Linked DNA regions of Homo sapiens. The protein of the gene in region 1 interacts with the protein of each later gene in a biochemical or structural test. Each region holds a gene or a part of one and is shown in the gene's direction. Other genes may lie near its edges.

Region 1 (3,495 bases):
TGAGAAATTCAGTTGCTTCCATTTCGCATGTTCTGCACATTTATCCGATGTAACCTCAAAAGAATAACTGGTAATAAGGGAAGGAAACAGCAGCAACAATCATTGCTGATTCAAGTTTAAGGTTAAAATATGGAATTTTTAGCTTGGATGATTTATATTAAAATCTTTCCATTTTTTTTTTCAGTTTTGGCTTGATGCCATGTTAAGAATGATGTGAATTCTTCCCAGTTCTGCCCTGGTGCTAGACATTGCCCCATACTTTCAATTAGACACTAGCTGTATCTAAATAGTCCCACTCAGTAAACTTACATCTTGAAAAACAAGACCAGTAAGAGGCCAGTGAAAGTACTAAAGAAAGAAACCAATGTTGTGTGAGTTTCAAAGCAGCTGCAATGCTGTGTAAAAGTAGAGTGTTCATTCTCCATTTCCAAGAGTGTTTCAGAATAGGATGTCTTAAGACTTCAGTCATGTCAGAGATTTTTTTTTTTAGGTGATTATTGAGTTTCTCCTTCTCCTTTAAGTCATCACCTTCCTTTTATGAAATGATAGTAAGGAACTCGTCTATTCTGAAAGGCATTTGAGAAATAGCTGAATTCCTGGCTGCTTTTTTGCTGGGGGTAGATGGTGGAATACTTCTGGTCTAGATATAACTTACCACTAAGAAACCCCCAGTATGTCACCACTGCCTAAATCTAACTAGACCAGGGTCCAAATGCCATCCAGGCCAGGCAGGAAATATACCTCATGTGAAAGACAGTAAGGAGTTGTGGGCAGTGTAACAAACAGGAGAGCTATGCCCCAACTAAAAGGAGCAGCTGCTACTGCTTAGTTTCAGCCAGTTGCAACAGTATGTGGGAATGTAGGCTGCATGGTTGTTAACAAGATAGATGGTAAAAAGATGCCAGAAGATACAGAAGATAGCAAAGAATGTGGGGAATTTGGATACCACACATAGCGAGAGACAATGAAGCATGCTTCCCAGCTCGCCAGAGTGTCACACAGCTGCTCATTCTGCCACCTGCCAGACATTAATGTCTTCCTGCCCTACCTAAACCCCCTCTTTACCTGATATTTTAATTCGAGACTCTAGCTACATGCCCACCTACTTAACAGGTACTAGTGACAGGTACAAAACATTATGGGTAACAATTCTGAGTGTTTAATGCAAGCCCAGGTGAAGCAGGGTAGCTTCCATCAGCAGGTACAGACGTTACGCTGAAAAGAGGTGCATTCTGCATTGCACTCCTGGATCTAAGTTTCTGCATTCTCAGAGCATCAATGCAGCAAGCTTATTGTTCCTCAATTTTTTACAATATTTATCACAACTCTGGGAGAAAACAAAACAAATCCTATCCTATTTACTATTTGTGCTACCTAGTGAGGAGATACCGCTCTGTTTAGACAAATTAAGGCACTTCACATTCTTCCACCAATTGAAAGTTTTGTATCTTACAGTTCTTTTTTTAAATAATATATTTATTGAGCACTTTCTATCTACTAGTCACTGTGATACAGTATAAGTAAAGTGGGTTGTCTCATTTAATATTCAGAATAACCACATGAAGTATGAACTGCCATTATCTTTCCCCTTTGTACAAATGAGGAAAGTGAGGCTCACAGAAGTTAATTGGCCCAGGGTCCCACAACTAGTCAGTGCAGAGGTGGGAAACATAACCAGATTTGTTCGGCATGAACTTGTGCCAAATTTCCTCCAAAGTTCTCAAAAGGCAAGGCATGTTATTTTATCCCAATTTAGCATACCAACAACTATAATACTAGATATGTAGGAAAGTGCTTAATAATCGTTTTTTACTGATGATTCAGTGTCTAAATTTTGAACAAATTTGGGTAAGATACAAGTCACACATAAATTGACAGAAAATGTAGTTCTTCATTCAATGGTTAGCAGTCATTAAAAGGTACTTTCCCTTTGTTTGTGGTGATAATCAGTATTAGTAGTTTTCATATTATTTGGCTTCCATATTAATCATTTTTATATTTTCTTCTCCTTCTTACCATGTTTACTTATATCATCCATCTTTTAGAATCCCAGGGAGCTAATTTCTGGTCCCTGTGTTGCTATCAAATCTGTATCTTGCAGAAAGAATAATTTATTTCAAACAAGGGACATACAATAGAAAGATAAGACCTACTGAGGTCTTTTTCCCATCATTTTATTATGAAAAATGTTCAAACATACAGTAAAATTGAAAGAATTTTATAGTAAATACTGACCACGGGGATTCTACATCTTACTCTACTTGTTTTATTATTTTCCTATCCAGCGTACTTTTTGATGGATTTCAAAATAAATTGCAGTTGCTGATATACTTCCCCCTAGTACTTCAACTGCAGATTATTAACTAGAGTTTAGTATTTATTTAGTTTTTAAATTTTTTTGATTTAAGATTTACCTGCAATAAAATGTACAAATCTTAAGTATAAATTTACTGAGTTCTTGCAGACATATACACCTGTGTAACCCAAACCCTTTCCAAAATTTAGACCATTGCAATCATCTTCAGAAAGTTTCCTAAATCCCTCTCCCAGTCTATCCCCTCCCCACCCCTCAGGTATAACTACTGTTCTCATTCTTTTATATCAAAGGTTAAATTTACCTGTTCTAAACTTCATATGAGTGAAATTATACAAAATGTAATGCTTCTTTCACTTAGCATAATGTTTTTGAGATTTATTCATGTTGTTGCATGTGTCAGTGATTCATTTCTTTTTATTGCTGAGTATTCTTTCGTATGAATATATCACAGTTTGTTTTTTTATCTTTCTGTTGATGGACACTGGGCTCTTTCTGCTTGTTTTTTACTGTTATGAATAAAGCTGCTATGAACATTCTTAGACAATTCTTTTGTGAACATGTGTCTTTATTTCTCTTGGGTAAATACCTGGGGATGGAATTTTCGGGTCCTTGGGTAGGTGTATATTTAGTTTAATAAGAAACTGCCAGACCTTTTCCCCAAAGGATTGTACGATTTTACATGCTTGCAGCAATGTAGGAGACTTCCACTTGCTCCACACATTCTCCAGCATGTGTGGTTGTTAGTCTTCTTTATCTTAGTATTTATGCTGGGTGTGTAATCATTTCTAGTTGATACTCAGATTGTTTCTACTTGTGGTTAGCAACCCTCTTGTCAACTTGACCTCCTTCCTTCCCCAGGAACTGCTGAAAACATCCTTTGTGATAATAGTTAAGATACCCCAAAACTCAGCTTGAATTATTCTTTCTCAAACATGGGATACATTGCTCATCAAAGAACCCTGATTCCTTTAATGGAGATCATAGTTGGGAACAACCTGGGTTCTAAGGGCACGTGTTCCACCGTTTCACATGACTACTGGAGCTGGACAAAATGGCACTGGAGAAGAGGTCACAACAATCATTATAATAAAAGCAGAAAGGTGACTTTTTTCTTCAAAAGTTGAGTTCGTGTTATCATGTACATGATAACAGGTGAAATCAGGTGAATTTTTTTTCTC
Region 2 (3,831 bases), on another chromosome or scaffold:
CAAATTCATAATGCTGTTTACATAGACATAGAGGACATTTAGTAAATATTTGCTAAATAAATGATCTCCTTCATTTTGTTCCCCCTCCAGATTTATCAAGATTCTTTTGAACAACGATTTTTGGAAGAAACTAACCGGCTCTATGCAGCTGAAGGCCAAAAATTAATGCAAGAAAGAGAGGTATTTAAAAATCATGACTAATAAATTCTCACTGTCTCTCACAATAGACCTTACTTTGTAGAATATAAGCTTCCCTTTGCATTTATCTTCCCAACATTGTGATGCTCTTCTCTCACTTAGGTGCTCCTTTCTTTTCTCTCTTCTTAAAGGCCAGAATTCTGGATCATAAACTCTACCTATAAATTTTTACATATGATTCTACCCTGTCACATTTGACAGGGCCACTTCCAGGATCTTTTGGACTTGACATTTTCTGAATGATTTATGGGGAGGAAAACAATAATGTAAAAAACTATCTTTGTAGGTTCCTGAATATCTACATCATGTTAACAAACGTCTAGAAGAAGAAGCAGACAGACTTATTACTTACTTAGATCAGACCACCCAGTAAGTACCACATGCTGAATTTAATAGTCTTAAACTGTCGTTAAATCACTTGCAGCACTTTAGCCATCCTAAACATGTTAGTAACTGTTTTCAGGTGTGATTTGAAGTGTTAACAGTTGTTTTCATAATACAAACTTCAAGTTATTCTTTTCCCTAGTTAATTAGTTTTCATCCAAGGATTCGATTATTAGGGGTGTGTGTGTGTGTGTGTGTGTGTGTGTGTGTGTGTGTTTAGAAGGTAATTTAGAAATAATACTAGAGGCTGATGTGACCTTTAAACTCTTCAGGCCAATTAAAATTCAGTGGATTCCCCTATTTCTGTGCTTTCCTAAGTATTAATATTGCCAGTCGAGGGGCCTCTGTATGTAGTACTTCTTTACCTTCCTAATAAAAGTAGCAAAACTTGGAAAAAGCCGACTACAGCAAGGTCTTGGAGATATTTATTTCGTTATGTAAACCAAATTCTAAAATATGCAGTGTTTTTTTAAAATTTTTGCCTGTCAGTTCCTTTATGTCTTTTTCTTTTAGGCATAAAGTATAGTAACTCTGAGCACCAATAAATTTATACATAGGATAGGAATCTTGAAATCAACATAAAATGAGCTATTTGATTTTTTTCCCCCCTCAGGAGAGGCTTTACATTTTCTGGAAGTCAAACGTCAATAATACTAACCTTTTTTTTTTTCCTTGTAGGAAGTCATTAATTGCTACTGTAGAAAAACAACTTCTAGGTGAACACTTAACAGCAATTCTTCAGAAAGGTAATTGGCAATTTGTAAATAAGAGATTGCTTTTTAAATGGTAGTGGCAAACTAGTAGGGAATTTTTAAAGATGTTGCCCTTTTAAAAGTTTGATAGCATGTGGCTGCATTTCTGAGGATGGACACAATCCTTATTAATCACAGTAAACTTCCTGGAGGTGCCAGTTTTCTTATCTGAAAGATACAGGAACTAGAAGAGAGGGATCCACAAATACCAATAAAAAAACAGTGGTTGATATGTGCCTGTAGTATCAGCTACTTGAGAGGCTGAGGCAGGAGGATTGCTTCAGCCCAGGAGTTTGAGGTCAGCCTGGGCAACATAGTGAGACTCTCGTCTCTTTAAATAAAATAAAAGAAAAAAAGTGGGAAATTCTTGACTTAATATGTAAGCTTTCAGTAAGGAAAGGTATTCCTTTTTACACTAAAGCGGTGAGGGTTTTTTGTTGTTCATGGCATGTCAAACCAAGCACTTCTAATCCCAAGTGAATTTAGAGTATACCCTACATTTTACTTTGAGAATGCCGCAAATAGGTAAAAGCCTTACCTTTCTCCCCAATAATATTTTCTTTTGTATAAAAATTTATATATTTAGAAATTTAATGCAGTTATACTGTTATTTCATCCTGGAAATCAAATATTTATTAGAGCCTCATTTAAATTTGACCTATTTATGCATGGCTTTTGATATATCACAGGCTATATCCAGTATTCTGAAATATAACTATGTACATAATATGGCTACTACATATATGAGGTATTTATAATGTATATTTATGTAAGCCAGTTTTTATAAGTTTGTTTTTGCCTCTAATCTATCATGCTAAATGGCACAAACCATTATGGAGTTAACCATTTTTCTTTTTCTTTTTAATTTTTTTAACTTTTTGAATTAAAATAGAGAGGGGGAGGGGGTCTTACTGTTGTGCCCAGGCTGGTCTTGACCTCCTGGCTTCAATTGATCCTCCTGCCTCAGCCTCCCAAAGTGCTGGGATTACAGGTGTGAGCCACCGTGCCTGGCCTGTTTTTATTTTTATAGCGACTAAAGTCTCTATATTTAGTTTTTACCCAGAAAGATGGTTGGGTTTAATTCAAAGGAAATCTTACATTACAACTCACATACAGACTAGTCATAGTTCAAACCAGTATCACAATAATGATTATAACTCAAATTTTATTAAAATGTCTGATAATCTTGTTCACTTTTTTGTTCACTATATTTTAATGCCAAAATGTTTTAAAATACAGGTTTAAATAACCTCCTTGATGAAAACCGAATTCAAGATTTGTCTCTTCTGTATCAGCTCTTCAGTAGAGTTCGAGGTGGAGTTCAGGTTCTTTTGCAGCAGTGGATCGAATATATCAAGGTATTAACAATTTACCTGTGATTTTTCTCTCTTATGGCTTATCTACACATCAAGAGTGCATATTGGCAAGCATTTCTTGTTTGATCCAATTTTTTTTTTTTTGAGACAGAGTTTTGCTCTCGTCACCCAGGCTGGAGTGCGGTGGCACGATCTTAGCTCGCTGCAACCTCTGCCTCCCAGGTTCAAGTGATTCTCCTGCCTCAGCCTCCCAAGTAGCTAGGATTACAGGCATGCACCACCATGCCTGGCTAATTTTGTATTTTTAGTAGAGACGGGGTTTCACCATGTTGGTCAGGCTGGCCTTGAACTCCTGAACTCAAATGATCCACCCGCCTTGGCCTCCCAAAGTGCTGGGATTACAGGCGTGAGCCACCACACCCGGACTTGATCCAGTTCTTTTAAGGGAATTTTAAATTTGTTTAAAAAGTAATGGGAATTTTGAGAACAGTCAACCTGAGAATGGTAGCTGTGTGGCATATCAGCTATAAAACCTGATTGATGGCTGACATAATTTCTGTCTCTACCACTTAAAGCAGTAAATGTAGAAAAAGACTTTGAACCCCAAATTTCTTTCCTTTCTTCAATCTTACACTAAAGCCAGATTGCCATTTTAAGGAAGTTGAAAGCTGACTTCTTTAAAAATAAGGAAAAGATCCCAGAGGCTTCTAATAATACCCTGTTATGATATCATATGCCCAGTGATCATTGCTTACTATTTTTGTGATTATAGATGAGTGGTTAACAGTGTGGATATTTAGCACTTTATTTTTTTGTCCTCATTTCACTATCAGCTTTATTTTGCCAGGTGCAGTGGTACATGCCTGTAACTCCAGCTACTTGGGAGGCTGAGGCAGGAGGATCCTTTCAGCCTAGGAGTTTCAGACTAGCCTGGGCAACATAGCAAGATTCCATCTTAAAAATAGCTTTATCTTACTTTTTAAAGATCTTTAAATATATATGCCACTTAAAATATGATTTGGGGATTGTTTTCATTGTAGACAATTCGATTACAGTAAAAAGTGGTAATTTTTTGTTTTAGGCATTTGGCAGCACTATTGTAATTAATCCTGAAAAAGATAAAACCATGGTTCAAGAATTGCTGGATTTTAAAGATAAGGTTGACCATATAATTGATATCT

Evidence for each region.
Region 2: the proteins of DCAF17 (region 1) and CUL4B form a complex in vitro, tested with the Homo sapiens proteins (one study listed by BioGRID).

What each region holds. Positions count from the first base shown.
Region 1 is NC_000002.12:171,482,192-171,485,686, forward strand, and holds the end of DCAF17 (DDB1- and CUL4-associated factor 17), read left to right. Parts: 3' UTR 1-2,861; downstream 2,862-3,495. UniProt on the Homo sapiens protein: May function as a substrate receptor for CUL4-DDB1 E3 ubiquitin-protein ligase complex.
Region 2 is NC_000023.11:120,540,463-120,544,293, reverse strand, and holds part of CUL4B (cullin-4B), read left to right. Parts: intron 1-90; coding exon 91-180; intron 181-484; coding exon 485-567; intron 568-1,260; coding exon 1,261-1,328; intron 1,329-2,573; coding exon 2,574-2,692; intron 2,693-3,731; coding exon 3,732-3,831.